Homo sapiens: one gene and its partners. The protein of the gene in region 2 interacts with the protein of the main gene of each other region in a biochemical or structural test. Each region holds a gene or a part of one and is shown on either strand. Other genes may lie near its edges. The genes, in order: GDF2, BMPR2, BMP2 and BMP4.

The links.
Region 1: the proteins of BMPR2 (region 2) and GDF2 form a complex in vitro, tested with the Homo sapiens proteins (2 studies listed by BioGRID).
Region 3: the proteins of BMPR2 (region 2) and BMP2 form a complex in vitro, tested with the Homo sapiens proteins (4 studies listed by BioGRID and IntAct, with this or other methods).
Region 4: the proteins of BMPR2 (region 2) and BMP4 form a complex in vitro, tested with the Homo sapiens proteins (2 studies listed by BioGRID).

The regions. Positions count from the first base shown.
Region 1 is NC_000010.11:47,324,388-47,329,240, reverse strand, and holds the end of GDF2 (growth/differentiation factor 2 preproprotein), read right to left. Parts: intron 4,401-4,853; coding exon 3,457-4,400; 3' UTR 1,653-3,456; downstream 1-1,652. UniProt on the Homo sapiens protein: Potent circulating inhibitor of angiogenesis. Signals through the type I activin receptor ACVRL1 but not other Alks. Signaling through SMAD1 in endothelial cells requires TGF-beta coreceptor endoglin/ENG.
Region 2 is NC_000002.12:202,553,141-202,562,358, reverse strand, and holds part of BMPR2 (bone morphogenetic protein receptor type-2 precursor), read right to left. Parts: intron 7,108-9,218; coding exon 5,828-7,107; intron 2,664-5,827; coding exon 2,413-2,663; 3' UTR 1-2,412. UniProt on the Homo sapiens protein: On ligand binding, forms a receptor complex consisting of two type II and two type I transmembrane serine/threonine kinases.
Region 3 is NC_000020.11:6,769,503-6,778,720, reverse strand, and holds part of BMP2 (bone morphogenetic protein 2 preproprotein), read right to left. Parts: intron 8,602-9,218; 5' UTR 8,595-8,601; coding exon 8,249-8,594; intron 477-8,248; coding exon 1-476. UniProt on the Homo sapiens protein: Growth factor of the TGF-beta superfamily that plays essential roles in many developmental processes, including cardiogenesis, neurogenesis, and osteogenesis. Induces cartilage and bone formation.
Region 4 is NC_000014.9:53,952,389-53,961,673, forward strand, and holds the start of BMP4 (bone morphogenetic protein 4 isoform a preproprotein), read right to left. Parts: upstream 4,438-9,285; 5' UTR 4,433-4,437; coding exon of another isoform or gene 4,371-4,432; 5' UTR 4,162-4,370; intron 3,941-4,161; coding exon of another isoform or gene 3,513-3,940; exon of another isoform or gene 1,794-3,512; intron 1,013-1,793; coding exon of another isoform or gene 888-1,012; intron 1-887. Other genes in the region: uncharacterized protein LOC124903317, read left to right, coding at 3,513-3,940.

The DNA of each region.
Region 1 (4,853 bases), on a different chromosome or scaffold from region 2:
TCACTCACCCCAGGGTGCACACACCACATCACTCACCCCAGTGTGCACACACTGCATCACTCACCCCAGTGTGCACACACATCACTCATCCCCCTCAGTGTGCACACACCACATCACTCACCCCAATGTGCACACACCGCATCACTCACCCCCTCAGTGTGCACACACCGCATCACTCACCCCAGGGTGCACACACCGCATCACTCACCCCAGGGTGCACACACCACATCACTCACCCCCCTCAGTGTGCACACACCACGTCACTCACCCCAGTGTGCACACACCACATCACTCACCCCAGTGTGCACACACCACGTCACTCACCCCCCTCAGTGTGCACACACCACATCACTCACCCCAGTGTGCACACACCGCATCACTCACCCCAGGGTGCACACACTGAATCACTCACCCCCGTGTGCACACACATCACTCACCCCAGTGTGCACATCACATCACTCACTCCAGTGTGCACACACCGCATCACTCACCCCAGGGTGCACACACATCACTCACCCCAGTGTGCACATCACATCACTCACCCCAGGGTGCACACACATCACTCACCCCAGGGTGCACACACATCACTCGCCCCAGTGTGCACACACATCACTCACCCCAGGGTGTACACACATCACTTACCCCAGTGTGCACACACATCACTCACCCCAGCGTGCACACAGATCACTCATCCCAGTGTGCACACACATCACTCACCCCAGCGTGCACATCACATCACTCATACCAGCGTGCACATCACATCACTCACCCCAATGTGTGCACACATGACTCACTCCAGTGTGCACACATCACTCACCCCAGTGTGCACACACCACATCACTCACCCCAGTGTGCACACACATCACTCACCCCAGTGTGCACACACATTACCCCAGTGTGCACACACTGCATCACTCACCCCAGTGTGCACACACATCATTCACCCCAATGTGCACACACCACATCACTCACCCCAGGGTGCACACACATCACTCACCCCAGTGTGCACACACATCACTCATTCCAGTGTGCACTTCACATCACTCACCCCAATGTGTGCACACATCACTCACACCAGTGTGCACACACACCACTCACCCCAGTGTGCACACACATCACTCACTCCAGTGTGCACACACATTACTCACCCCAATGTGTGCACACATCACTCACCCCAGTGTGCACACACATCACTCACTCCAGTGTGCACACACATCACTCCAGTGTGCACATCACGTCACTCACCCCAATGTGTGCACACATCACTCACACCAGTGTGCACATCACATCACTCACCCCAGTGTGCACACACATCACTCACCCCAGTGCGCACACACATCACTCACTGCAGTGTGCACACATATTACCCCAGTGTGCACACACTGCATCACTCACTCCAGTGTGCACACACATTACTCACCCCAGTGTGCAAACACATCACTCACCCCAATGTGCACACACCACATCACTCACCCCAGTGTGCAGACACCACCCACCTGCATCCACCCAGTCCTGAGATGGCTGCCTGCCCCTCCCCTCTGCCTCCTTAGGAAGGGGAGGCCCAACCCAGTGGGGTCTGGAGGGTGGGGTAGGCAGGGTATGAGTCTATAGGGTCCTCCAGATTGGGTCTCACATTCAGGAGGGGCTGCAAATTAGACATTTGACTTTATTTCCGAGTGAAATTTTCAAGCAGGCACAGAAGCACACCACCAGGACTGAAAGAAGATGCTCAACACCCAACTTGGAATAGCATTGTAACACTACACTGCCCGGCATGTAGCAGGAATTCATATTTTCTATAACGCCAGTAATTAAACAAGAATGTTTCGTTGTATTTGTGTGTTAAAGTTGTTCATTGGTTCCATGTAAACATTTAACATAACGTTTTCCCCACCCCCCACTTTTTCTTAAATAAATGGGAGCTTCAACCACGGGGAGAGGCCCTGGCCTCTCTAAGCCTCCCCTAGGCCCTGCTCTGGCTGGAGGTCAGAGGGCCATAGGTGCACTCTTCACCACTTTCAGACTCTTCCTCATACCGCCCCGTTCCATGTGTGGCCTGGAGAGACAGAGGAGAGGGTGAAACACAGAGCAAATGGAAGCCTTATCTTCCCTTGTGTTCGGGGAGGCTGAGTCTGGTCCCACAGTCCGAGCCCAGGCGGGGTGCTGGGATGCACGTGACTCAAGAGAGCCGGCAAATGCAGGCAGAGCCAGTGATAGCCGATAAGGACTGCAGCTCTTCCGAGGCTGGAGAGGCCTCGCCCAGGAAGGCTGGAGTCTTGTCACTTAAGGACATGTCACCAAGGAATAAAAATAGATATGTTTCAAAGACCAAAGCCAGAGCACATTTAATTCCAACAAATTCAAATCCAGGCCCGTCTCCCATGAGGTTGTCACTGGGGGGCACCCTGGGCATGGCATGCTGGTGAGCTGGCTATGCAGAGTAACTGCAGAGGTGCTGGCCACAGGCTGCCCCATCCCTCAGGGGAAAGTGTGCCCGGCCCTCTCAAATGGTCACATGGTTTCAGTCTATGGACAGTGAATGGCCCTGTGTGCACCACTGGCCGTGGGAGCACTGCACCAGGGGGTCACAATAACTCCAGCCACAGTGTATCATGCAGCCCACAGGGCTGCTGTCCTGACCTCTCTCTCTATCCTGCAGTTGGCCTGGGGTTATTTTTCAGTGCCTCAGGGGTCATATTAAAAAGCATGTGGCCGCTGAGTGAGCACTGGCAACAGTGGCCAGACCACGCCCTGTGTGTGACAAGCAGCCCAGTCACACCTGTGACTGATGGGCCTCAGCCTGGCCTGGCCTCAACACTCCTGGGCTCCCAATGTCTCACTGCTCTTTAGCTGGAGAGGACCTGCTAAACTGCAGCAGGGCACTTGGGAAGATCCTGGGCTTTGGTGTCCCACAAATCTGAGTTGGAATCATGCCATTGATCAATGCTACTTGATCTGCCTGTGTTTTATGTCTCTAAATTGGAAGCCATGCCCCTCCAACTGGGTTGTGGGAAATAACATACAATGATGGGTGTGACACGCGGCCTGCTCCTTCCCTCTACTCCCCAAGGGTTTTGGAGCGAGCTGGCCTCCTCCACCTCTCTAACTTCCATCAGTCTCTGCAGTGACCTGCCCGCCTGTGCTCCTCTGGCTCACTGCTGTTGTTTTCTGCTGACTATGGATTATTTTTCCCCCTGTCTCCTTTTCATCACCTCCTTGCATCCCAACAACCCTCCCAGGCTTTCCTGTTGTGCTCAAATCCCCATTTCCTTAGCCTTCCCTGGCAGTTGAGCTCAGCGGTGTATGCTTTGGGTGGGGTGTGGGGAGGGAGAGCAGGCTCCCTTTCCTCCTCCAGGCTGGCATGCAGATTGAATCAGTCCTTGTTGTGCCCAGGGGCATGCAGGACCTCTCATGTGGAGCCCCTTTGGCCTGCCTCCCCAGCCCCGCAGGCAGATACTACCTGCACCCACACTCTGCCACGCTCATGCCCTCGTAATGGTACTTGAGGGTGGGCACCCCCATGTCATCCTTGTAGAGGACGGAGATGGGGCTCAGTTTGGTGGGCACACAGCAGGCCTTGCCCACCTTTGTGGGGAACTTGAGATGCACCAGGGTCTGCACGATAGCGTGTTTCGTCGGCGTCACATCGTCAGCCAAGGGGAAGAAGCAGCCGCCCTTACACTCGTAGGCTTCATACTCCTTGGGTGCAATGATCCAGCTGTCCCAGCCGATGTCCTCGAAGTTTACCCGCAGGGAGGTCTTTTGACAGTGGCTGCCAGCCCCGGCGCTCCTTTTCCGCCTGGCTAAAGTCGACCCCGCAGCCACGTGGCCATCCGTGTCCTCCTCGTGACTGCTCTCACCTGCCTCTGTGGAGCCGTCCTTGGACAGCTTCTTGAGCACGCTCTCTTGTTCATGGCTGATCATCTCCCTCAGCTCCAGCCTGGTCTCCTTGGTCCCACTGCTGTGGTCATTGGAGAAGACAACAAAGAAGGGCAGGTTTCTGGAACCTGGGGGGACACTGATGTCCAGCGTGTCGCAGCCCTTCCTGTGGCTCTCCACAGTCACTTCCAGCTTATTTTTGCTCTTGGTGGAGTCGGACCGGACCCAGCGCTTCACGGCGCTGGACACTTCCAAGGTCTCCCAGCCCTCATCCTGAATGTCCTGGGACACCAGGAAGGTCTTGGTCTCTGTAGCACTATCCCAGGCATCTGTTCCATCCAGAACATCATAAATGACCACGCTTCCTTTCAGGTCATGAGAGGGGTCCACGTGATTTTGACAGGAGACATAGAGTCGGAGCTCAGCTCTGGTGATCTGCTCATGCCTAGGAATGGAGATGTTGAAGAGCAAGATGTGCTTCTGGAAGGGGAAGTCCTCTGTGGCAGTTATGGAGATGGCATCTGAAATGCAAACACACGTGGTGGGCATCTGCTGGAGGGTCTGTTTCCATGACACTGAAGCTGAGTCTCAGGGTTTAGACAGAAGAGCATCTGGGATAACAATTTTGGTCTGTATTATCTCTATTTGGTTTCACCCAAGCCCTTAAAGTATAAGAGTATTTTGAAAGGTACACTTAAGATCTTCCAAAGGAGATGCCTCCAATTGGGATTGAGAGTTCCTACTGTTTATCGAGCATCTACTATGTGCCAGGCATTACACTGGGAGCTTTGCAGAATACATTTCACCTTAATCCTCTCACTTACCCTGGGAGGATCTAATTATTATTCCACATTTGCAGATGTGGAGACTGGGATTCAAGGCAGTTAATTGCCAAAATGCATACAGCTAGTTAAGTATTCTGGGACTTACTAGCACACAGCTATTGAGTACATAAAGAAAACAGAAAAACTCAC
Region 2 (9,218 bases):
TGAATGAAATAGTAAACTATTCAGTTATTTTAATCTGGCATATTAATTTTTAAAGCATTTTATCATAATTTTCCCAATATTAAAAAATGTTGGACAACCTACAATCAACTGGCCCAAATACAAATATAGCAGAACGTAAGATAACTCTTCTGGCAGGAAAAGATCAGTTAGACCTCAAATGGTCATTTATCCTCAATGCTTCAAATTGGAGAAGGAACATAATTTATTTTGATTCAAAGTTGTCCTACAAATATTTGAAAAGAATATCCTAAAATGCATGTGAAAGATATTTAAGGGCAAGAGAACTAAGTGAAAATGTACTAGGAAAGATAAAAATAATTTGTTAATAGAAGAATAATAACTGTGAAAAAAATTACGTGCCAGAAGACTGAAAATAGATTAAGGGGCTGAATAAAGAAAAGGGCCAATAAAACACAAAACGTGGAAATCCTGGGCACTAACAAGATATTCTTAATTCTATGAATCCAGAACTGTGTTCAGCAATCCAGCTGAATAAATGGTAGGTATAGTAACATCTAACTTGTAAGATCACAGCACATGGCAAATGAGAAGGCTTATATACAAGTAAATCACAAATATTTTGGACAGAAAATTGGGAAATTTAGGCTGTCTTTAGCTAAGTGATAAGATAGAGGAATATGAGTGAGAAAATATTGTTCAGGAGATAAAAACATAAATCAGAAATTTGGTGATTTGTGTTTTCCTCTTAACCTTTTAATCCCTGGAACTATCTTAGAACTAAACTATATAACATTTACTAAGTACTCTGATAATCGAAAAAAAAGTAAAAAAAAGTGAAATCATCAGTTTGCAAATTAATAGAAAATAATTTCTGTTTAGAAAAAAGTCCATTATTTGACAGAAAGTGCTTTATTTAAAAAAAACATGCAGAGGTTGTTTTAGAGGAGATTATAAGTAATGAAAGAAGCAAAGGGCTTTTAAAAATAATATGATTTCAAGTCATTTTATTACTAAAAGGTATACTCTAATGTAAATAATAAATGTTGCTCACATATCAAAGATAATGTGAAAAACTGGCAAAAGGAAAAATTATGAAAATAGGATTAAGGAAGATAACACAATTTTGAAAAGAGAGAAGTTTAGTCTCAGTTTGCTCAAAAAAGGTAGGTTTGATAGCAGCCCTTCCTTCATAGGGACTTGGCATGCCACTTGAATGATTTTTCCTCACAGTGTTTTAGGTCATGGGAAGAGGAATCATTTTCAGATAAAGTCACCAGTCTTTGCTTGGGAACAGGGTAAAAGATACTATAGGTTCAGAACTATAAATTACTTCTGAAGTTATAATAAACAGTAAGGGTAATTTTATGAGTCAAAGATGGCCTATTCAGAGAATGAAGGCTATAACACTATTTTGTCTTAACCATTTATTTACCTACTTAAAAATTCCATAAGTGTAGCTCTATAAGCTTACCAATAAAAATGTATTTCTTAAATAAATGAACATGGAACATGAACCTACATAGAAAAATAAAATAAAATGGGAAATGGCTAATATTTGATGTCCTGTATTTTGTTCTATTCTCTCTTATGAACTCCCAAAACCAGAAGCAAATAAGTTTATTAAGATGCCTTGAAGGAAACATTTAGGATTTGGAAGGTTAAAAGAAATGGCATTTCAAGTCAGGTTTTGGTAGTTCCTTCTTTAGAGCCCTTTCAGACAATGTTTCTGTATTCTCCATGATAAGGAGAGAGAAAGTAAGAAATCAGGTAGCTGCTTCTCCTGTGCAAAATTCACTGTCATAGAACTGACCTTCAAAAGTATGGGAGATGGGGCAGAAAAGTGTTTATATTATGGAAGAATATGTGCCCTGTTAGGAAGAGAGCTTACAAGAAAGCTTATTTGTGGCCTATAAACTATTGCACATTCAAACAAAACACAAGAGAAAAGATGTCCAACAAGATAATATGTTCAGGAACGTATCAACATAAAAACTAGCTTGTGCCCAGAAATAAAACATGGATACCAGACACCACTGCAGTCAAACCTGTCTTAATTTGCTTCTGTTTTAATGACCTTAAGAAACTGGTCCAAACTGATTATCAGCAATACATTGTTTTTGCTTTTTTTCTTAAAAAAATATTTTGAGACCACTTTTGATACACACACATATAACTCTGTGGTCATAACAGACAAATATAACTTTAGCGAGACTAAACAAAAGTGCAAAACTTAAAAAACAAAATTTAAAAATATGGAAGCATAAGCTAAATTTTTCTGCATAGCTGAAATCTATTTAAAGCAAGTCTTTGTTGCAGGGGTGGGAGGGGGTGCTGACAGGAGGATAAAGCAGTTTTTTTTTTATTTTTAAACATCTTCTGCATGTTTAAATGATGCAAAAAATAATTTCACTCCATAGGCTTGAAAACATTTCACAGACAGTTCATTCCTATATCTTTAGACACCATGGTTGTAGCAGTGCCTCCTTCTGCAAGGTAAACAGCAGTGCTGGATTTGGAATGAACTGCCCTGTTACTGCCATTATTGTTGACTTCACAGTCCAGCGATTCAGTGGAGATGACCCAGGTGGAGGGGCGCCACCGCTTAAGAGAATAGGGAGTTTTCACACGTTTCTTGATCTTTTCACCTGATCCTGATTTGCCATCTTGTGTTGACTCACCTACTGAAAATAAAAGTGCAGAAAAATGAGCTATTTAACAAACTTAAGAAATAACGGGTAAGGGATGTAACTCAAGAAAAGGTCAAACCAATGTCTCAGGAGGGTGCTAATGAACATTTCTTGAAATTCATAATGCCAGACAATGTTTTTCCAGGAAAAGCTTAACCAACTTATTTTTGAGACTCTTTAACCCAAATGTTTTAATAACTGATTGACTTATTTTATAAGGCAAGGGAAAACACACACACACAAAACACAGGAGAACATTTAAACTTCTCAGCTGTATTCTCAAATCTTCTGGTTTTGGTAGCGATCTTAACTTGGTAAAATGTACTTAATTATTGTATTTAATTGTATTTAATGCTCAAGGTGGATCAAATTTTTTTTTTTTTTTTGGGGGATGGAGTCTCACTCTGTAGCCCAGGCTGGAGTGCAGTGGCATGATCTTGACTCACTGCAACCTCTGTTTCCCGGGCTCAAGTGATTCTCACGCCTCAGCCTCTCAAGTAGCCGGGACTACAGGCGCATGCCACCATGACCAGCTAATTTTTTGTATTTTAGTAGAGACGGGGGGTTTCACCATCTTGCCGAGGGTGGTCTCAAACTCCTGAGCTCAGGCAATGTGCCCGACTCAGCCTCCCTAAGTGCTGGGATTACAGGTGTGAGCCACCATGCCCAGCCTGGATCAAATTTTAAAGGCACCTGGCATACAATATTTTTCAGAAGAATAACAGAAATATTAGAGTACAAACATTCTAATAATTTCCTCTTCCTATATCTGACAAGATTTTTTTTTTTTTTTTTTTGAGATGGAGTTTCATTCTTGTTGCCAGGCTGGAGTGCAATGACATGATCTCGGCTCACCGCAACCTCTGCCTCCCAGGTTCAAGCAAGTCACCTGCCTCAGCCTCCCAAGTATCTGGGATTACAGGCATGTGCCACCACGTCTGGCTACTTTTGTATTTTTAGTAGAGACCGGGTTTCTCCATGTTGGTCAGGTTGGTCTCGAACTCCCGACCTCAGGTGATCCGCCCGCCTCAGCCTCCCAAAGTGCTGGGATTACAGGCGTAAGCCACCATGCCTGGCCTATCTGACACGATGTCTTACTGACTCAGAGCCCTGCAATAAAGGTCTGTCAACTGATCTGTAATACAAGCCACTCAAGCAAGGGGCTAAATTTTCCTGATTGTGTTTTGAGACCTGTATCCTTCCTTCAAGCCCATTTTGTAGCCCTTGACAATAAAACATAACTTTTTTTCATAAATGCCTTAGTCTAAAAGAGAAATAGGCTGGGCGCAGTGGTTCACGCCTGTAATGCCAGCACTGTGGGACACTGAGGTGGGTGGATCACCTGAAGTCCAGTGTTCGAGACCAGCCTGGCCAACATGGCGAAACCCCTCCTTTACTAAAATACAATAATTAGCAGGGCATGGTGGCACATGTCTGTAATCCCAGCTACTCGGGAGGCTGAGGCAGGAGAATCACTTGAACCCGGGAGGCAGAGGTTGCAGACCACCACACCAAACTAAGTTTTAAATTTTTTGTAGAGATGGAGTTTTGCTATGTTGCCCAGGCTAGTCTTGAACTCCTGGCCTCAAGTGACCCACCCACCTCAGTCTTCCACAGCACTGGGATTACAGGCGTGAGCCACCGTGCCTAGCCTACAGTTTCTTTATAGTAATTTTCCCAAAATTTCTCTGGATCTTTAAGATTTATTAAGGTTAGTTTGATAAAACCTAAATGCAGACATAATCAATATTAATATATGCAATAAAATGTTTCAAAGATTATACTGGTATAACATTACTTGGAGCTCTTGAACTGTATTTACTTTATTTCAACTTTTCATAGCAAGTATGTGAGTTGCATTATAAAGCAGCAGCCACATAAAGCACATATTAAATTGGGTAATTATTCTGACTATTGTGACACTGACTTTTTAATTATCAATGACAAAAATATTACTTTTTTCTTTACAATAGTCTAATTACCTTTGAGGCCCAACCAAATGGCTTATTTATTTTTTTTCCTGAGATGGAGTTTCGCTCTTGCTGCCCAGGCTGGAGTACAATGGCGCAATCTCAGCTCACTGCAACCTCCGCCTCCTGGGTTAAGGCGATTCTCCTGCCTCAGCTTCCCAAGTAGCTGGGATTACAGGTGGGCACCACCACACCCAGCTAATTTGTGTGTGTGTGTGTGTGTGTGTGTGTGTGTGTGTGTGTGTGTGTGTGTGTTTGAGACAGAGTTTCATTCTGTCACCCAGGCTGGAGTGCAGTGGCATAGTCTCGGCTCATTGCAACCTCCGCCTCCTGGGTTCAAGCAATTCTCTGCCTCAGCCTTCCGAGTAGCTGGGATTACAGGTGCCCACCACCACACGCGGCTAATTTTTTGTATTTTTAGTAGACACAGGGGTTTCACCACCTTGGCCAGGCTGATCTTGAACTCTTGACCTCGTGATCCACCTGCCTCAGCCTCCCAAAGTGCTGGGTTATAGGCATGAGCCACTGTGCCTGGCCATTTTTGCATTTTTAGTAGAGACGGGGTTTCACCATGTTGGTCAGGCTGGTCTCGAACTCCTGACCTCAGGTGATCCACCTGCCCTGGCCTCACAAAGTGCTGGAATTATAGGCATGAGCCACCACGCCTGGCCCAAATGGTTTATTTTATTTCATTATTGAGATGGAGTTTCACTTTTTTGCCCAGGCTAGAGTGAAGTGTCGTGATCTCGGCTGGGATTACAGGTGCACGCCACCACGCCTGGCTAATTTTTGTATTTTTTAGAGATGGGGTTTCACCATGTTGGCCAGGCTGGTCTTGAACTCCTGATCTCAAGTAATCTGCCCGCCTTGGCCTCCCAAAGTGCTGGGATTACAGGCGTGAGCCACCGCGCCTGGCCTAATTTTTTTTATTTTTTAGTAGAGATGGGGTTTCGCCATGTTGGCCAGGTTGGTCTTGAACTCCTGACCTCAGGTGATCCACCTCCCTTGGCCTCCCAAAGTGCTAGGATTACAGGTGTGAGCCACTGTGCCCCGCCTCAAATGGATCATTTACAAAAGTGGTAAAGGTAAATAATCACTAGTTGAAATATATCTATTAGTTGATTCTAAATAGTTATTTAAATGGCCCCAAAAGACACACAGGAGAGATTATATGATCCCTCCACTTACTCTGTATACTGCTGCCATCCAGGACATTTGTGGCTGAAAGATCCAGAGAATTAGGCCTCTGTGCTCTTCTGGGCTTTGATGGCCCAGGATCTGCTGCTGTGCTTGGAACACCCTGTGCAAGAACATCTTGTTCTGAACATGGATTGCTGTTGTTGTTATTGGAATTAGTTCGGCCACCTTCTAGTGGCCGTTCCCTCCTGTCCACAAGACGATCCAGAACACCTTCATCATGGCCAGCTTGTTGCTCTCGTCTCAGTAAAGGCTCATGCTCATCAGGACTGGAATTAATATTCAGCCGGGTGTCCTCACCAATAAACTGATTCTGCAACATTTCTTGGGCCCTATGTGTCACTATGTTGGTTGTTTGGCCAGATAGTACTGTCCCATTGGCATATTGGGTTGTGGCAGCATGGGAGTTAACACTGTGGTTTCTACCTGCCACACCATTCATGGTGACTGTCACCACATGAGGTTCTGCTGCATTGATTGTATTCATCTTGGCAACTCCAGTTTCGACTTGTTTCAAGTTTGATTTGTGCTTGCTGCCAAATTTTAGCCGGGGCTCTTTTGTTGAATTTTTGGTGTTCAAAGGCAAACTAGTAGGTCTCTTGGGAAGGTTCTGCTGCTTGGGGAGAGGATAGATCTGAGTAGGCAGAACATCAGGAATCAAACATGCTTGGCCATTTGCAGTCTGTGTGAAGTCCTGCTGTCCAGTTGCTTCTACTGCAAGTTTTATGAGTGGGTAAAGCAAGCTAGAACTAGTACTGCTCAGTGGGTCTGGGCCACTGAACTGTTTAAGAGAGTGCTCCATGAGATTCTCATCAGAGCTTTCCTTGAGGTTCTTATCAACTTCTTTTGGGTCTAGCTTGTTGGTTTCCAAGTCTTCTTCTGTCAGCTGTAAGCAGACAGGGGTTGGCCCAATTGACTGTGCAACATTTGTGGTATGCAGATTTGTTTCATCTGGGTATGGCATCTCAGATATAGTAGTCATGCCAGTACTTGGCGTGAGTCCTGTGGTGTTTGTGGTTGTTGTGTTGGTGGAGAGGCTGGTGACACTTGTTTCAGGGCTGGGGATTCGAGCTTGTGCTTGCTGTCGTTCATAGTTAATTGAATTTCGGTTTTTTTCCCCTATAGTCAAAGGTGTGCTGGACATAGAATGCTCAGAGGAAATATTCTTCACGATGCTGTCAGTATGATGGATAGAGTCTTCAATGTATGAGGAGGAAGAATAATCTGGATAAGGACCAATTTTTGGCACACGCCTATTATGTGACAGGTTGCTTAAAGAAAGAAAAAAAGTATCACATTGAGAACGTACATTTATGACAAACTGTCTCTCCAAATTTAACACCTCTGATTTTAAAGTCTGAGTTGTTTTTCATTTTCTTCCAAACGTACATTTTTCTAAAGGTTAAAAAGTCTAATCAAATAATCAAGTGTCAATTAATAACTTGATAAGTGTTAGTTTTATGTGAATTAAGCCTACTGAAAAATGTATGTGGATGAGATATAATTTTTATAAATGTTCATTATTTTGGTTTATAAGTTAATTAAAAAATCTCCCCTATAGTTTTATAACATCATGAAATATATATTTATGGAATGTATATTCATACAACCAGACGTTATGTTTTATGAGAGGAAGAACCATGGTATATGTTTTCTGTATTTCCATAATTCTAGATGCATAGTGCCTACTCAAAAGGTATGTTATCAATTAAGTTCCAATGGCCAAATAGTAAAAAGAATATAAGCTTTTAGGTTGTTCCAAAGGCCTCCATTAAGAGGCATGCCCTAGTAATGGCACATATCTTTCTGGGGTAGTCTGAGTCATATCAGTAAAAGTCCTTGAGCCTAAGGTATAAGGCAGAATATGATGTTCAAATAAAGGATCAAAGATTCAGAACTGCTCTCCAATTATCATGGGTTCTTTGCTGTCATTGTCATTCCTTGGGAGTGACAGTTATTTATAAGGGAGATGATAGAAGGAAAAGAAGAAAAAAAAATTGTTATACAGTACAAGAAAAGGAAGCTAAGGAGACATGGAGGGTAAGACTCAGGAAAATAAAACCTAGAGTTAGCGTAACTATGGGATGAATTATAATTTTGAGGAAATTATTAGTAGAGACTGGAGATGAGAAGATGCATGCAGAAGGTTGAGCCGAATGACACAGGAGGCGAAAAGTGGCCAAATCAAGGTGGGCCATCAAGGTTTTTTTTTCTTACCATTCAAGAAAAGTTTGAAAGCATTCAAAATAAAAGCTTTAGCTGACTTTTGAGAGAGGTAAAAACATCATACTAGAGGACATGGGAAATACAGAGATGAGGGGAGATAAAAGCAGAAGACTGTCCTCAGGTATGTGTAAAGTGAGAAAATTTATAATTAGAATTGCCAGTGTCTAACTTTCTTGATTTGCTGATATACAAGGTATAAGAGTTTATATTTGAAACTAATTTGACCTATACAAAAGTAGTGCAAACCAAATTTTTCACCTATGGCTAATACAAATAGCTTTCACAAATTAGAACAGAAAATAGGCCGGGCACGGTGGCTCACACCTGTCGCCTATAATCCCAGCATTTTGGGAGGCCAAGGCAGGCAGATCACCAGGGGTCGGGAGTTTGAGACCAGTCTGGCTAACATGGTGAAACCCTGTCTCTAATAAATATACAAAATTAGCTGGGCGTGGTGGCTCGTGACTGTAATCTCAGCTACTCGGGAGGCCGAGGCAGGAGAATCGCTTAAACCTGGGAGGCAGAGGTTGCAGTGAGCCAGGATCACGCCACTGCACTCCAGCCTGGGGGACAGAGTAAGACACAGTTTCCAAAAACAAACAAACAAAAAAAAACAAAAACCACACAGAAAAAAAAAAAGTTTCAAGAATCGAGTTTATTTTTATTTCAATTTTCTCCAGTAACCCTTTCCTGGATGCCTTTCTGAAAGTTTTAAACATGTATTAGACAAAATGACAAAGTCATAGAAAGGCTTTTTTACCCCAAACATGGAAAAAAGAAATACAGATGTAGAAAGTTCCAAATTGTAGGAATTTTTAAAAAGCCTTTCTATTTAGAACCAAAAATCATAGTTCTAACAAAGAAAATGTCTTGTAAAATAATATTAATGATGGAACAGAAAGACCTTTGAATTGCTTTCATATAAAAGTAGTAGTAGTATATTCTATAAGAAAGAGCATTAGATAGGAAGTCTACAAACCTTAGTGTCAGTGAAACAGTGGTTAGATAGGCAAGTTCATAGTTCCATTTACTTAAAAAAAAAAGCAGAGGAAGAAGGAATAACAACAAAGGATAAATGAGACAATTTATATAGAAGTGCTTATGAACTTTTGGAGTTATAAAAACATTTTACCTTTATTATTGCAGGAAAGTTGGA
Region 3 (9,218 bases), on a different chromosome or scaffold from region 2:
ATGCCCTTTTCCATCATGGCCAAAAGTTACTAGCAATGGCCTTATCTGTGACCAGCTGTGTTCATCTTGGTGCAAAGACCTGCTTATCCTAACATGTCTCTTGGAGACACCTTGTTTCTCCTCCAAGTGGGCCACTTCCACCACGAATCCATGGTTGGCGTGTCCCTGTGCAGTCCACCGCATCACAGCGGGGGTGACATCAAAACTTTCCCACCTGCTTGCATTCTGATTCACCAACCTGGTGTCCAAAAGTCTGGTCACGGGGAATTTCGAGTTGGCTGTTGCAGGTTTTATGATTTCATAAATATTAATTCGGTGATGGAAACTGCTATTGTTTCCTAAAGCATCTTGCATCTGTTCTCGGAAAACCTGAAGCTCTGCTGAGGTGATAAACTCCTCCGTGGGGATAGAACTTAAATTAAAGAAGAATCTCCGGGTTGTTTTCCCACTCGTTTCTGGTAGTTCTTCCAAAGATTCTAATTTGATAGAGAAAAACAGGGAAGAAAAAAGAAAAGTCTGAATTTCAGTAAGCCAAGTAATGACGTTTGATTATCTATGAGAATTTTTAAACCTCATCGTGGGATTTGATGTAACCCATGTAAAAGTAGGTAACCAGAAAATAAAAATTTCCTCTTTAAATAAACATGGAGCCTCCCTTCTCTCTGTTCTGTAAGTTCATGTCATCATGCATTGCATACCAGGAAACAACCTTTCATAATTCTTTGTTGTGTTTTTGATCTAATACATGAATACTGCTTCCAGGTGGCTATAATAATGGGGGAAATGGTGAAGCATTTCTTTGGAATTCCAGACTTTAGGGTAAAAAAAAAAAAAAGTCAGCACTATAGTTAGTAGAGGTCTAATGAGTGAGGATTTGAGGAAATTATTGCATTTCTTTTTTAAAAAAGGCTTTAATGCCAATCCCTTAAGCAGTATTCTAAAACATTACTCTGCAATTTAGATGATTTACAAATCTCGATATACAGATTTCAGCTTCCTAATTAAAGACTCTGAAACTCAACATCAACGATGACATTTTGCAAAGCACACCCTACTATTTTACTCAAAAGTCCAGAGACAAAGGCATTTACAGGGATCTACTTCTTTGGAAACGTATGGGTGGTACTAGGACACTGTAGTAATTAAGGCCAAACAATTTCAAGAGAAATAGCTTTCCCAACTGTTGTCTGTTCTCTCACCTCTTTATGACCTCAAATATCAAAATCTCATTTTAGATGCTTTTGGAAGAAAAATAAATGACCTGTCTTCTGTTTGCAATGCCTTTATAGTTTTGAAAGATAAACCATGTTAAAAAACCATGTACCTACCCAGTAATAGTGTGCAGGATGGACACAAAACCAAAAAAATAATAAAAATTTACAAAAATATGATTATGATCTCCATGACAAAAGGAACAGTCTCATCCTATTACAGAATAATCCTTCTATATCCACTATCATTATTTCAAAATAGCCATTTAAGTGGGCCATGCACAAAAGCTTTGTCTGATTTAAAATTTCTGAATTTCAATTTTTAAGAAGTATTATTCTCCAAGCAAGTAATATATAACACAGCACCTTGAATGCTTGTAGTCTGCAAATCATCAAAGGTACAACATTATTATTAAACTGGTAGTATATACCATGAGAGTTTGAGACATTTAAGTTTATTTTATTCTAACTTTACCACATCCTATCATTTCACTGCCAACAGAATTTGCCTGCTTCATTCAGAATTCCTACCCAAGTGCTAACAAAATCTATTTTGCCATCGTTCCATGTTATCATAAGAAGAGACTATGTTTTTATTAATTTTACAGTTGTATTTCCCCTAAAGACAAACAGCTGTAAGTTGTGCACTGAATCTAGATGCCTTAGCAAAGGAGAATCATGTCAGATCACTCACTCAAAGGATCTACCCGTGTAAGCCTTCATCATCAAAGCAACAGTCATCATGCAAGCTAAGTGGACACACCAAGTTCAGTCAGGGCAGTTTATACCAAACTAACGCTTTAATGCAGTGCTTTTCAAACTTCAGCCTTCACATAAAACAGCTTGTACACCGTAAAGCTTCAGATGCAGGCTCTGATTCAGTAGGTCTGGGGAGATGCTTGAGATTCAGCATTTCTAGCAGCTCCTCAAGGAGGGGATTCTGGGAACTGTAAGACCACACTTGGAGTGTCAAGGTTTTGCAGCATGTTTTTCATATTCCAGTATAGATTGCCAGGAGTGCATTTTTAAAGTGCCTTTTTGTTAAATAATATAAAAACTAGTAGAAGAACCATTAGTGGTGGCAAAGGAGTAAGAGTTGAATGGGCCAGCTCTGGGTGGGCCCAGCCAGGGTCTCAGAACAGAAGGTTCTTCTAAAGCTCTTCTACGTGGATATGGGGAGTATCAGGCCAATAGAGTCCTTTAGGGTTCCCTTGTGCCTATTAATCCAAACCTCTGGGGAATACCTTTCAGGATCCATCCACATTCTAAACTCCACTGGAAGCTAATGGTACTTTAGGCCAGACACAATCATTAAAATAACCTTCTGACCATTTGAACCTGGACTCTTCTCAGTGGCTCCCAAGGAGTACCAAGGACTGTGTTTGGCCTGTTTTTTTCTCCTTCTCCTTGCAATTCAGACGTTTCTGCTGAAGGTAATTTTTCAGCAGAGAAGGTAAAAGTCAGCAACCTCAGACCCCAATGACACCAAAGCCAGACCAGCACCTGAGCTACTGGCTTATCTGATAAGAATACATCTAAGAACACCCTCTTTTCTTTCAAAGAGGGGGAGGCAAGGAAAATTATCTAGAGCACTCGCTGACTAGCTATATTAACAAAAGTGCCCAGAGAAATCACAATTGCAAGAAAAACCCTAAATCCCAATGCATAAAGAAACATACATTCTCACACATTCTCTCTCTCGCACACACGTACACACCCACATGGCCAGACGATGACAGTGAAGGGACAAGCTACAAGTCAAGTATGAGGGACAGGTAAATGAAGTAAAGAAGATGGGTATAAAAAAGGTATGAAATAGAATAATAACCTCCCAAAAAATTAAATGACAAGATTGAATCATACAAAATTGCCACTATTTGACCAGAAACACAGACAACAACAATTTCATGTGGTTCAAGGTCTCAGTGGAAGTAGGCAGCCTTAGCAAAGGAGAATCAGTTAGTGGCCTTAAGAAAGGAGAAAAAATAGACGAGCAAATAATAATAGGCGATACGAAGATCTTTCTCTGACCTTCCCACTGCACCTCAGTGAATCTGTTTCTTGAAAGGTCCCATCCTCAAGACAAAAGCATCCATTGCAACACCCCTGGTTGCAGAAACAGGTCACAGAGGTAAGTTAGACGTTCACAGAAACCCTCAAACCCAGGAAAGTAACTGGCCAAGGTTAGGGAATATACGCTCATTTTCTTTAATCTGCCAGGGAAGAGTACGAATCTTTTCTTAAGGGTACAAAAATTAAAACCTATTTGAAATAAAGTAAATTAAATAAACAAACCTTCTATAAATCATCACAGCAACCCTGAGGATGCCAAAAATATATGGATCCTCAAGTAATGTATGCTTTTTTGGAGACTTATACAATTGCTAGTTTTCTGTAAATATCCCTTCCTGAATAAGCTGAAGTTCTTAAGGGATTTGAGGATTTCGACCTGTCTTTGACCCGAGTTTGTGAGCTTCTAAGTTCTTAACCAAATGGATGGAGCTATGGCTGCAAAAATGTGGGAAAGTGAAGAAAAATAAGACAACAATGATATCTGAACTTTTCTCCAAAAGTGAAGTCCTAATTTAATAATCTATACTATATCAATCATTCCTCTACCTCAAAATAATTCAAAAGACTGAGCTGAATTCTCTCAGTCAGCCTAGGTCCACTCTGGCCTCCTTTTCCCTAGAGAAGGAAAGGCTATAACATTAACAAAAGAAGTCATAATGATAATGACAGCTGAATGCTTTTTTTGAGTGTAATCTGGCACCATCAGCTTTATATGAATTATCTCACAACAAACCAATTAGAGAAAAACTATCATTATCTCCATTTTGTAAATGAAACAGTTGCAGTTCAGAGAGGTTATGTAACTTTCCTAAGGTCACAGAGCTAGCAAATTAAAAGTAGATATATATAATTGAATCTACTGCGCTTCTCAGGTTTCTTGTCTTTTGTTTTGTTTTGTTTCTTGTTTTTGTGACACAGGGTCTCACTCTGTTGCCCAGGCTGGAGTGCAGTGGCACAATCTTGGCTCACAGCAGCCTCCACCTCCCAGGTTCAAGCAGTCCTCCCATCTCAGCCTCCCAATTAGCTCGGATTACAGGCATGGGCCATCATACCTGGCTATTTTTTTATATTTTAGTAGAGATGTGGTTTCACCATGTTGGCCAGGCTGGTCTGGAACTCCTGACCTCAAGTGATCCACCCACCTAAGCCTCCCAAAGTGCTGGGATTACAGGTATTAGCCATCATGCCCAGCCAGTTCCCAAATTTCTGGCTACTAGATGGCACTACCTAACATACATGAGGACTCAAAAACTTAAGCAAAAGTCAAAACCATTAGGGGCACATTTATATTTAGTACAATGATAACATTGGGTGAGTTCTGTCCCAACTAAATGAACAGAAATATATGACTTAGGTATGATGGACAGAACAGACAGAAATGAGCAGAAAAGTGACGGGGCCCACTGGAATGTGTCTATTTTATAAGGAGCCACTGCTATTTTGTGGCTGCCCTTTTGTTCTAAATAAAGTATGGTAAGTTTTATCAAAAAAGTAAGTTACCGTTATGCTTCGAGGATTTTAAAACACACTTTGGGCTAAAAAATCTCCAGTAAAACAACAACAACAACAACAAAACCTGGGGATATGCTGGCAATCAGTAAGGCTGGAAGTCACTGCCCTAACACAAAATGAAAGAGGCTGAGTATAATATAAGATTTTCCAGATAATAAAATAACAGACAACTGATCAAGGAGAAAAAAAATATCAAATACAAAAGGTTAAAAACATTCCATTTTAAAAAAAATACAACAAGGGAATGGCAAATAAAGGAATAGAGAGCATGGTTGTCATCAACAACCCTGATTTGGCCTCTGCCCACCCTTAACACCAACACCTTCGGAATGATGAAATATTCTCTTATTGTCTCAGTGAAAATACACAAAGAGCAAGTCTAAGAACGCAAAATAGTTCACTGCAAAGGGATTAAGAGAAATTTAGGGGAACCACTAAAAAACAGGTGGAACGGAAAATGTCAGTGCCAAGGAAGTATCACTGGACACCAAAGCCTCAATCTCAACAACCATTTCCAAATAGAGTAATTTTCCTACTTAATGTGGCCTCTGTAATGACAATGAAATACCTGGGGCCACTAGGGAACCATACCAGGTAAGTATTGGTTTTGGTGGATCTATGTGTCCAAATCTGTTGTTTGCACGGGGGAATTTGTGCCACAAAGTCTCTAATGCAGGGCAATAGTTATTTCTTGAACTTTTCTATTATATGGATATTTTCATAATAATTATATTTGTGGAAAGAGGGTTAATCTCTATTTGAAAGCTTCAGTCACAGAGGCAAATAATCCAGTTATTTCATGTAGAAAGAAGACTGTGTCCTTCAGAGTGAGGAGAACAAGAAGCACCTGGTCTTTCTCTCTCCCATCTGACAAAAAAGCATAAAGACTTTTTGGAGGGCCAGTGAAGTCAACCAGTTTCAATGTGTTTCCAACTACAGCAATACACAAAACACTCTTTCCACTTGCAGAACTGACTTTTCTATGTTCAATGGCAGTTTCCAAAGGTCTATGTAGCTGAAGCACTTTTTAATGATCTTGAAAACAATAACATTTTAGCAAAGCTGATATTCTCCCAAATAAAAGCCACTGGAGAAAGGACTAGACAAAATTCAATAGGAAAAATACAACTGATAATTCTGTCTCAGATCCCCTATGATATGGTCGCATTATACTCATATTGGTTGAAAGAATGCTATCATGATATCTCGTCGAGTAATTCCACCAAACCATTCGATCACACCTACAAAGAAAACCCAACAGGTAATTCTTATGATTGGGTCTTTATGGTCTTTTTTCAAATAAATGCTCATTAATGCTGTAGAAACTAAATTCTGTTCTTGAGCCAGCAACCTTCATCACATGGTTTACCAAAAACTTTTTTCGTGGCATGCATGGCACAAGGATGTTTATCAAAAGCAAATCCTGGGTGTATACAACAATGATTAGTCTTGAAAAAAGTGCTATATCCATCCAGATTAAGGATGATATATTAGTCATAATGAGACAAGAAATGGATTAGTTGAAATTTGGGGCAAAATTACATAGCTTTTCTCCATTATCTAACTGCATTAAGACCTGAAGTTATTACAAGTTGATTTTAATCAAGTTGGTCACTTCTGTACTGTTTCTCAGGTAACATTTACACTCACAAAGATATAAATTCTGATTTTATAAACTCAAGCATGCTTTTTAAGTTAAAATAACACAGTTGAATAACGTGTAGCCTGTTTAGTTCTGATCAAACCACTTCTAGATGAATGATGAGAATATGCAGACATCACTGATAAAATCCTCACACAATGGAATGTTTTAGGTGTTAACTAACTTAAATGATCTTCCTTTTAAGTTGTAACAGAGACACAGCATCTTCCAGGCCTTAAAAATAAAGTTGAGAGCTTCCATGCTAAATTTCCAGAAGAGGTGTCTAAAACAGTTGTTCTTATTACATTCCTATACAAAAAAAAAAGTATTCTAATCAGCATTACCTGGGAATGATTAGCTGGATCTATAATCATTTCAGGGTTAAGATGGCAGAATGTACACATACACACAAATTTTACATATGACAACAGGTGATTTCTGCTTTCATTGGATGAATTCTGAAAGAGTGGAGTGAGATCTTACTGCCTTTCAAATCTGATTTCTGCTAGCAGAGAGCACCTCACTTAGAAATGTGCTTGTAAATGAACTGATGATCAATTCAGTGTCCCCGTCGTAATGTGTAGCTGCCTCAATGAGAACGTATCTTCTGCTATGTGGCTTGCCTTTGGGACTTATTCCCATTACCAACAAATACTCTCACAAGTATAAGTCACCCTTCACACTGGGAGAAAACATCTGGAAGTGCCATTTCCCATTAGTCTATTATCAGTGTAAATTTCCCACTTGAAATTTACCACCTAAGCAGGGAAAGGCAAGAAAGAGAACTTCACTCCCAACTCCCCAAATATCTGCCAAGTGGTTGCTCTGTGATATACACTTTTGTACTCTTTTCTAGGAATTGAAGAAACCCATGCTCTATTTTAAATGTATTAAGCCAAAGAAGCATTTAAAAGTGTAGAAAAAGAATTGAAGTGGAACATATTTTTGACTAATTGCTCTAAGAACTTAGGTACAGCAGACCTCAATAGCTGCTGTAAGACATTTCCAGTCCACTAAATGCCCTTCTGATGAAACAAGCAGAAATATCCCACCTTAGAAAAACCACATGTAGTATCATAAAAGAAAAAAAAATCCACATTTCGGTGCACATGAAAAAAAAACAGGCAGCTGCTACAAACGCTTTTATCTGAAGGCTTGCCTTGTCTCTACTCAGAGCCTATCTCAGATTTAAGCACAGGACAAGAAAGTCATTGTGGAAACAATAAGATTGATTGTAGTATTGATCTCCCACGGGGATTAGATTGGGATTCAAAATCTTCCAAACCAGGCCCAGATCAACTATAAATTAGAAAGACTTTGGGGCCCTGGGCTTTGATTTTTCAATACTATCTCTGAAAACTCTGCCCTTGGCTCTGTCTACCCTAAAACCCTGGCTTAAGCGGCAGATTTATAGAGCAAAAGCTTCCAAACAGACTTAAAGAAATCTCAATCTGCCTCCCTTTTTCTCCTTTTCCCTCTGTGGAATTCTTGCACGTTTAGCTGACTAGAGGCATGCCTTTTGCCCTCATCTTCCCCATCACTTGATTTCTCTCCAATTCTTCCAGGAGGAGTAGCTCTTCTGGCTGCAAGCCAGGAAGAGGGTGCGGAGTTACTAAAGGGGAATCCCTGGCTCCCCCACCACACAAGCAGTGAGTTAAAATCAGATTCAGAAACGATAGTACAGAAGCAAGAGTGGAAACGTCCGCTGGTGCCCCGGCCAAGCTGCCTCTACAGGGACGGCTGCAGTCTGCCCACGGTGGAGGGCTTTGCAGGGTGACTCCCCGCCCCCACGCCCTGCTCCATGCCTCACCTTCATGGTGGAAGCTGCGCACAGTGTTGGCTCGGCTGGCTGCCCTCTCCAACCGGTGGTCTGGGGCGGGTGAGCCCGGCTGACCTGAGTGCCTGCGATACAGGTCTAGCATGTAGGGGGGCACCACGGCGTCCCTGCTGGGGGTGGGTCTCTGTTTCAGGCCGAACATGCTGAGCAGCCGCAACTCGAACTCGCTCAGGACCTCGTCAGAGGGCTGGGATGAGGGGCGGCCCGACGACGCCGCCGCGAACTTCCTGCGGCCCAGCTCCGGAACGAGGCCAGCCGCGCCGCCCAGGAGGACCTGGGGAAGCAGCAACGCTAGAAGACAGCGGGTCCCGGCCACCATGGTCGACCTGCGGACAGGACCGACGTGAGTCACCCGAGTTCCCCGCCCAGTCCTCCCCCCTCGCGCCCCCGCGGCCCGGTCTCCCATTTGGCTGGCGTGCCTCCTCCAGGATGCCCTCCTGGCTTGGCACACTCACGAGTCTAGGTAAGACCGACCGAAGCTCAAACGTTTGGGATAATGAAGGGTCCCAAGTTCCTGAACCAGATGATTTATCGCTCCCATCCAACGCTTAGCTCGTCTGACATCAGATTTGGGATTTGCCCTCCCCCCCAACCAAACCAGCGCCAATGACTGTCACTTTTTTGTGTGTGACACAGCGCTGACAGCCAATGCCGGGAACCTGGGAAAACCACCGCTTGATCTGACACCCTGCGTCCCCTATACAAACCCAAATGCGGAGTGCTGAGCGCTGTCTGGCATATAAACACACATAAATGGTGCATGTGACTTCCTTAGAGGCACTGTATAGAACTTCCTGACACACACACACACACACACACACACACACACACACCCTTATAGCTTCCAGACCCTGTAAGCTCAAGGCCACAACTTCTGAAGCCACTTATGACTTGTGTCCCAGGCCCCTACCCTCAGGGGTGTCTCGAAAGGCAGCTCCATCCC
Region 4 (9,285 bases), on a different chromosome or scaffold from region 2:
CCCGCCCACCCACCAGCTGCAGCCATGCACGGCCTGAAAGTAAGAATTGCCCTGTAATTACTTGGTCTAACTTGTTTACAGTCAAATAACCCCAAATCAGATAGCCTCCATCCTGTTAATCTTTTTTTGTCCTAACTGCTATCTGGGCCATGATCTCAGCGTGGCTTCTTGAAGGATAAACAGTTAACATTGAGGGGGTGAAAAGGGGTGGGGGAGGGAGAATTAAAATGGCATTGCTCTCCACTTTAGACCTTCAGCTTCTCTCCCTTTTCCTCCACCCTCAGAGCCCAACTTTCACAACTTCCAGTTGGTTCAGAGCCAGAGGGAGGGAAAGTGAGAGGCAGGGGCTGGGCGAAGACAGAGGGCGACAGGGTCCAGAAGCCGAGAAGGTGGTCTGGGAGCTAACCGGGTGGCTTGAGGGCTTATTTTATTGTGGCCGATGAGTTTGAAATATTCAGCCAAAAGTGCCTGATCGTGCCCGCTCATCCCCAGGGAAGGGGTGAGAGACGATTCCGGAGAGACCTCTGTGAGTTTTGACAAGAGAGTGGGAACGCGCCACGGAGACACTGGGGGCTCTCCCAGACAAGTTGGATAGGGGAAGGGAGTGGTTAGCCCTCAAGGTACAACCCCGGGCTTTCATCTCTTTAGCTCCCTCGCGCTCCCCTTTCTTGCAACGCTGAGAGGGCGAGTGCGCGCTAGCAGCACTTTAAAAGGAACCCGTACGCTTCCAGCGCCCCGGCTGCCGGGCCAAGAAGGGAGCGACAGTGCTGCCAGGGAGCAGAGTGTGGATATTGTAAAGGAGGTCCGACGGAAGGGACAGCCGGCGAGCAGGGGTGGTGAGGGCAGAGTGAATTCCGGGGAGGGGGAAGGAAGAGGTGTCTACTCACTGACAGAAAACAAGGCATATAATAACAGTCCATGATTCTTGACAGCCAATCTTGAACAAACTTGCTGGAAAGGCTCAGGGAAGCTGCAGCAGTGCGTTGCTCGGGATGGCACTACGGAATGGCTCCTAAAAGGAATATTTGAATATAATGAGACTCCACCGCAGACAGGCTCTGTTTTTCTTCCAGCCCCTCGGAGTCACGTGAGCGCCGAGGCCCCTCCCGCGGCAGGCGGCGAAAGGGCTTGCGCGCCCTCCCCTCCTCCACAGCCCCCCGCCCCTCGCGGGCCCGCCCCTCCAGGCGAGGCCAACCTCCGCGCCCGCCGCCCGAGCCTCAGCGGTCCGGGAGGAGCTCCCGGCGGCGCTCGGCAGAGCCCTCGGCCGGTGCCCCGCGGCCGCCGCGCTCCCAGGGCTACTGGCGCAGCGCACGGAGAACCCGGTTCTCGGCGCGGTGCGTCGTGCTGGGCCCCCGCGCCGGGCCACCTGAAGCCAGAGGATTTGGGGCGCACTGAAGGGACTGCGTCTCCCAGCTCGAACCCGGCTTAAGTGGGGCCGGGAGCGAGGTCGGGAAAGTCTCACCCGCCCAAAGCCTCACCACCGAGAGGCACTTAAAAAGGAAAGCGCAGAGGGACCCTGCCCACGCGCGTGTACACACACACCCCCCCACACACACACAAGCAAACACGAGCTCCCCGCCACTTCCTCCCCAGGGTCTCCTCAAGGCCAAATATTGCTCCCAATGACAGCCAGTCACCCCTTGGCGAACGCCTGCTAAGGCTCCGAAGAGCCGGGCCACCGATCTAGCTCCCGGCTGAAAGCAGCCGACCTTGTCACGCGCGGGGCCGGGAATGGGAGGGAGGGTGTTAGAGGGTGATCGCTGTGGGAAAGTGAGAGGGAGCGGCTGTTAGTCATTGCTCCGGGTCCATTACCGAGAATCCCCAAACCTAGTCCGCCGCTGCGTGGCCCCTCTCCCCATGCAAAGCAGACCCCCGAAGAAGCCATGCCAGGCTGAGGGACAGACGCCGGGGCTCGAAGCTCCGGGCAGATTCAGAAAGAGGCGTCGCTGCAGAAAGGACGCATCACAGTTTTCAGATCTTAATGTGGCCGAGGTTTTACAACTCCCGACCCGGCGCAGAAAGGAAATCCCACCATGTTCCCCGGAGTCGAGAAAACGGTGAACAGCTTTCGGCCTGCGCTCGACCTCTGCGTCTGCGTCTCTCTCGCCTCGGCTTCCCTTATTTTTTAAACCACCACCACACTCCTTCCCCCGCCACTTCCTTCCCCCACCCCCTTCCTCCGTTGCACCAGCAGCAGAGTCGCACGCAGCAAATACTCCTTCAAGAATTTTACCTACCTACAGTTCAAGCAGTTACTGGGATGTCCTGACTAATCGAAGATGCTGCCGCGCGCGTGGGTCGCTCTGCGCAAGGGCCTCTTCGAAAACCCGACTAGGCGCAACTCAGCGTTCAGCAGGGCCGGGAGCGCCAGGTCGTCCCCGGGGCCCGGGCCCCATGACTCCTGCCCCAAAGCCCACTCCACCCGACCTCCCTTTCCTGAGGCTGTTCCCAGTTGCTGCTTTGGGTCGCTCCGGAGCTCAAGAACTCGGGTTGCCTGCCGCCCCACTCTCCACGCACATACTTGGTTTTCTTCTTAGGGGCATTGGCAGGTAGACTTTGAGGAAGAAAAGTAAAGGATCGAACAGCTCAGCCCTCCCTCCCGACCGTGGATGCCCGGAGTCGACCAACACCTCAGGTCCGGGTGCGGAGGCCGCGGGCGCCCCTGCGCGACCGTCCGCGCCCGGCAAGAGCCGCGCGGCTTTCGCCTTTGCTGGTCCCGCGCCACCGCTGGGGCGGGCTGCGAAAGGGTTGGGAAGAGCAAAGGGTTTTTTTGTTTTGTTTTGAGACGCAGAAGCCCTTTAAAAAGCCCGGCGAGGAGAGGTCCAGAAGTAGAGAAAGCAGACGGAGGCAAGCTGTGCCCGCGGGGCAAAGGGACAGTAGAAGGGGCGGGCGCCCGGGTTCCCCGGAAAACCCTCGGCCCCAAGGAATCTCCTGGGGCGGGAGAGCGCGGTTCTAAAACCGAGAGGATAGGAAGGGGAAGGGGGAGTTGTGTTTCAATTTCGGATTCACCAGGATTCATCTCTAGTCACATTTTTCTTCTCAAATTTTTAAATCGAAAAGATAAAAGCCAAAAGAACTTTCATCCCCAGAGCTTTTTATTGGGGGAAAGGAATGTAACTCGGGGTGGTTGTCCTTCACTTCCCTACTCGAATCTTCTCCTAATGCCGAAATGTGTTTACAGGTAGCCTCAGTTTACCAAGTATGTATCTTTTGGGGGTTTAACCTCTCACAAAGCCTTCAACTCACAAACCGCGATCCTTGGAAACCATCCTCCAAAGCAGTGCTTGGAGGCCTCTAAGGCCCCCGGACCAACTCCCGCTGGAAGAAGCCTGCAGGGACTCGGGAATCACGGGAACCTTTCCCGTCGGTTCCGGGCCTGGAGGGCCAGGAAGAGCCGCGCGTCCGCCTTTCGTCCCGCCAGGAACTCCCCATAGGACACGACACCGCAGGAACAAGCGTCCTGGGAGCCCCTGGGATCTTGGCTGTCGTCTCTAGGGACCCTACACCGTGAAATGATAGAGGCGAGGTTCCTTGGGTTCCGCAAGTCGACGAAAATAGCTCGTGGAGAAGGCGCGTCCTGCAACTGCAGTTCGCAAGCTCTCAGGGCGCCCCGCCAGCTGGGGGCCAGATTGGGTGACACTCCCCTCGACGCAGCCTCCGGAGCGGCGCGCACTCTCCAGAGGCCAGCAGGACTGCGCTCTCTACCGCAGAACCTGCTCCAGCTAGGTGTTCTCTCCCCATCTCGCCGTCGCTCTGCCCCCTCACTCTCTCTGGACCTCAGAGCCGGTTCTCTCCTTCCTCCTCCCGCGCTTTCCGTCCGGGGATCGCAACCTCCAGCCCGTGGGCAACGCGTTCAGCCCAAGACCCCACAGTTTTTCCCAACGACCCCCCTACCAAGGGCTTCTCTTGTTTCTGCTCTCCTGCCCCGCACTTCCCAAAGGTGAGAATCTCCCAGGGACTGCTGGACAGAGAAGGCCTGGGCAGGGGCAGTAGCCGATATTTAAAGGTCTTTCAGCGCCAGCATCCCCACCTCCAGCACCACTATTGGAAAATAATTAGGCCACCTTTTGCCTCGGTCACAGCCTGTGACCAGCTTCTTCCCCCCAAGGAGGCTCCTAGACCCCCTCTGCCTGTCTCCCCTCACCAGGTAGCCTTGCTCACCATAGGTCCCTGCAGTAGCGGGCTCGCCAGCAGCAGCTCCTGGGGACCTCTGAACGGTTGCAGTGAACCTGGGCGAGGGCCGGGGACTGTGGCGCTGCAGGCTCGAGATAGCTTGGACGGGAATCCCATCGGGGAGACAAGCTAGATACTCAGCCGGAGCAGCAGCGGCGTCTCAGGCTCGCGTCCCTCAGCTCGGATGCCACACTCACCTAGCTTCCGGGCCGGGCTCCGCGCTCCTTCCCTCCCTCCCTCCTCCTCTGCCTTCTCGCATCTTCCTTCCTCCTCTTTCCCTCCCTCGCTTTCTTTCTTTCCTTCCTCCTCCTCTTCCCCGGCGGCCCCTCCCTCCTTCCCTCCTCCCTCGCTCGCCTCCCTTTCTGGGGATGGGAGCCCCGCCCACATCCTCCCCTCCAGCCGCCCGACCTCGCCTAGCAGGCCCGGGTCCCGGAAGCCCAGGCAGCGCCCGAGTCCGCAGCTGCCGTCGGAGCTGGGACGCCGCTGCCTCCAGCTCTGGGAAGCGGCTGGGGCTCACCTGGGGACCACGTGCGGAGGTACTAGAAAGCATGCACCGACTAGTCGCCGTACCTTCCAAAAATACCCATGGGAGTCTGGGCTTCCCTGAGTTTAGTGTAACTGCTGCCCAAACTGATGATTAAAACACTGAGTAATCACCATTTACCCTGAGTAATTAGAGATAATGAAACACCTCTAAAATCAGGTTATGGAGAAAGGAGCTGTTGGATCGGTTTAAAAGGTGGCCTTCCATAAACTGTTAAAAGATTTCCAAACGTTGAGAAACAGGCTGTGTGCAGAACTGTGTGCCAGAGAGAGATACCTCTTGGGCTGTTAAAAGGTGAATTTCCTTCCAAAACATTCTTAAAGTGCGTTTTGTAGAACACCTTGGTGATGACCCTGAGGTAGACCCCAGTAAATGAGCTCACTTCCCTCCTCCCCCCAAGGCCTAAAGACAGAGGTGGCCTGCAGACAGGCTGGGGCCACGTTTTTTACAGTTAGAAAAATCTGTTTCTAGCTCAGAAGCCGTCTTAAGAACCGACACAGCAGTTATTTTTGTTGGTGTTATGGTTGTTGTTGATTTTTTTGTTCATTTTTGGTGTACCTAAGAGTCCTGACACTCTGTCTTTCCAAGGAGATAACCACAGAAGCAGTAACCTTTTAGGCCACAGGGAGACAAGAAAAGATGCCCCTTGGTCTGTTTTTAAAGGAAGAGGGGAGATGAGGAATTGGCCCTTTCATATAAAAACATTTTAGTAATCATATTAGCAGGGAGGTGGAATGTGGTGGCTTTTAAACCTTCCCAAACAGGAACTAATTTCACACACTGCCTCTGATGGAGCTGTGAGGGAGCTATCAGCCTCATCTCTCTGTTTTACAAACAAGGAAAGGCAGGACTACCAGGTTAAAGGGACTTGCCCAGATCTCTGAAGTAAATCACAGCCTCTGCTCCAGAGCTAATGCTTCAGGGAGGGGTTGAGGCTCATAGCCTGAGCTCCAGGTAGCCAGAGGAGTGCTGGAAGACTGAGCATTTCCTGTCCTGGATTTCTTTCCCTGGGACAGACATGACACTTTACTGTCTCTGCAAAGCATTTAGGTCTTTACTTAAACAGATATTGGCCCTGGGTGGCTCATCTATAAAAACTTTACGTTTATACACCTTCGATATTTAAAAAACAAGAACTACTTCCTGTGTGGAACACAGATTACAAAGGGTGGGAAATATCTGAGATCAGAGAAGCAACTGTCAGAGCAAGGCCAAGACATCCTGCCATCTTTTCCATCTATTAGGCCTAGGTCTTTTGGCCTAATGCACCAAACAACAGAAACAAGCTGTATGGCTTTGGGCAAGTCTTTTCATTCCTATGAGTCTCAGTTTTCTCATCTGCAGAATGAAAGGATTGGGCCAGATCATCTGCATGCTCCCTTTATATTTGAAAATGATTTGATTATTTAATTGTAATTTTAGCCAAAGTCCGTCTTCCTTCATTTTAAGTCACTCCTGAGTTCACTTTCTCTAAGAACCACTGATTAAAACAGGGCAGGGCAATAACACCACCCCAAAAGGAGGACAAAATATACCTGTAGCTTCCAAATAGTCAAAATCACAATTAATTATTAAAAATAATAACAGAAAATTAAAACTCCATTAAATAGTTACCTAATGTTTCTCCTGCAGCATCAGGCATTGTGCTCCTTTAGCATGGTACCTGAAGTCAGGACAGATTAAATGCTCACTGAGCCCCTAAATCAATCACTGTTGTTTTAATCATTAACGAAATGTGGTTCTTAATATTTAAACTCAGAAACAACAGTGATATGCTGGACTTAAAGGCAGGACTTTATTTTACTTTAAAGCACCAATGTCATTTCGGGGTTTTTTTAATTCCAAAGGTTTTTGAATGACAGCTATTGTCTCATTTTGCTGCAGCCCAGACACTAAAGTGGCCACTGATTGGCCCATCCATGAGTCTGTGACACTCACAGTCCAGGAGTTTCCAATTAAGCTACCCGACATACCATGTTTAGACCCCTGATATGAATCTTCAGATATATGACGAGAGAACTCAGCTTTAGTTCTCTTGGGACAGCTTTATTTCTCTCCCCACATTTTAGATGGGCGCAAGCCATCTGTTATCAGCTGCTTTTACCCACTCCTCCTTTTCCCCCCTTACTCATGCCAAAGAACAAATTACTTGTTGGTTAGAGAGCTAAATCAACCACAGCCTAGTGATCAGAGTTCGTGAGAAGAATCAGTTTAGTTATTTTCTGTATCTCAAACTTACCTGTGAATTTTCATGTTTTTATAGAACATGGTAGATAGACCAAATGAAACTGTACCCTTAAAGCACATTGATGAAGAGGGGAAACCCACCATAATTCAGGAGCAACTATTGCTCCTATGCTGCTACTACTCAATGAAAGGCATTCCTTTGTTGGGTTTTTCCTGGAGAACATCAAGAAAGAGTAGCTGGTCAATAGCCTGTCTGCGAGCCCTTGGGACAGCCTTTTTCAAAGCATGTTCTCAGGACTATAAGCCTCAGAGTAGGGTGGGGGTGCAGATGAAATGCAGACTTCCTGGTCCTGCCCCAGATCTGGACCCAGAAATCTGTATATTTCACAAGGTTCTCTGGTCATTCTGAGCACACTAAAGCTTGAGAGCTACTGTTTTAAAAGTTATTTTGTTTCCATTTTCTATGCTGATAAGTACCATTAAAAGGCTGATACCAAGACATCATTAAACAGGCAAAGAATATGCTGGGCTTGAACTTTATAAACTGTTAAATATGGCAATTATAGTATCACTATGCCCTGAACACACCAAATAGGTCTATGCAAGTGAAAAGATAATCCTATAGATACAGTAGCCCTTAATTCCCCATCCCCAATTAAGAACCACATCAGGTCTTCAAACCTTCTTGGCCAATTAGGTGTCTGGTGAAGCTACGGAAGGAATTCCCAGAATCACTGCTAAGTTTTGAGAAGCAGTAAGATAGATCAATTGGAATTGGAATTCGAATTCGAATTGGAATTGGAAGTGGTCTCTGAAATTGGCTAGAAATTTAGTTTTCCTCTTATTAATATTTATCATATCTTATATATTTGCCCTATATATCTCTAGCCCTTACAACAACCCTTATAAAATCCCTGTCCTACAGATGAGAATCTGAAGTTTAGAGACGTTATGTAAGTTGCTCAAGGTCACAAAGCTAGAAAGTGGTGGACCCCAAGTCCAAACCATGTCAGTCTGTCTCCTCTCCCTGGGCAAGTGAGGGGTATTGTGGATGGATCCCCGAGGCTTATCCTGGAAGCTTTCCCCAGGCCAAGGCACCAGCTGCTGCTCCATCCTGGCAGCATGCTATTACCAGGAATTTCAGGATATCTTCCCAAGTTCTTAGATAACAAAACAAAATCAAGACCTAGAAGTTTGTTTCTTCCTGACGTTACTATATAAGCCCGCCTTAGGGCAAGACTTTTATGTGACCTTTCCTGAGAAAAAGGTTATGATCTTGAGAAAGGAGCTCATTATCTCTGCTGGGTCCAAGTTTCCTCATTGTAAAATGTGGAGCTTGAACAGGGTCCTCACAGGTCTTTCTCAGGCTCTGGAATACAGAGACAATATATCCTGGTAGTTAAAATCACAGTCAAATTGCTTAATCTCCAATGTCCACTCATTATGCTTTGTCTATATAGATCTGACCCATGAACATAGCTGTGCCAAGATAACTACTCACTGTCAAAATCATACCTACTCTGAGCAATTAGTTTTTACTAATAGGCTGAGACTGAATGACATGTCCAAAAAGCATTCTCCGTCTGTTTTGCGGATTCCTAACACCTCTAACTTTTAAGAATTTTTTTTCCTGTCCCTCAAGCTAAAACATAAACTCATTTTCTTTATTCTGATCTAAAGATGAACTTTTAACCCAATTGCACAAGTTGTTCCTTCTCTAAACATTTAATATTGTTGCCAACCTTTGATATGCCTCACTCAAAGTAAATAATACTGGATGCTGATATTTTCTCATGACAAAAAGAAAATCCAATGCTATTTCAGTTCCCTATGTTTTAAATTGCTGCCTTGATACTTTCTGGAATATGGTCCTTTCTATAAAAACCCTTCAATATTAACATCCAAGCCAGGTGCGGTGGCTCACACCTGTAATCCCAGCACTTTGGGAGGCCAAGGCAGGTGGATACCGAGGTCAGGAGATCGAGACCATCCTGGCTAACATGGTGAAAACCCATCTTAACTAAAAATATAAAAAATTAGCCAGGCATGGTGGCGGGCGCCTGTAGTCCCAGCTACTCGGAAGGCTGAGGCAGGAGAATGGCGTGAACCCAGGAGGCGGAGCTTGCAGTGAGCTGAGATCACGCCACTGCACTCCAGCCTGGGCGACAGAGTGAGACTCTGTCTCAAAAACAACAACAAAAACAACAACAAACAAACAAAAATCCAAAATGGACAGAGACTTCTAAATGAACCCCCAGTGATATCAGACAGATGAAAAGACTGTTTTTATGTCATAACATGTTTAACGTGGATGGCAGACAGGGCATGGATATGAAAAGTCTTTTCTAAGGAATGATCAGGATGGGATTGGCATGCAATGA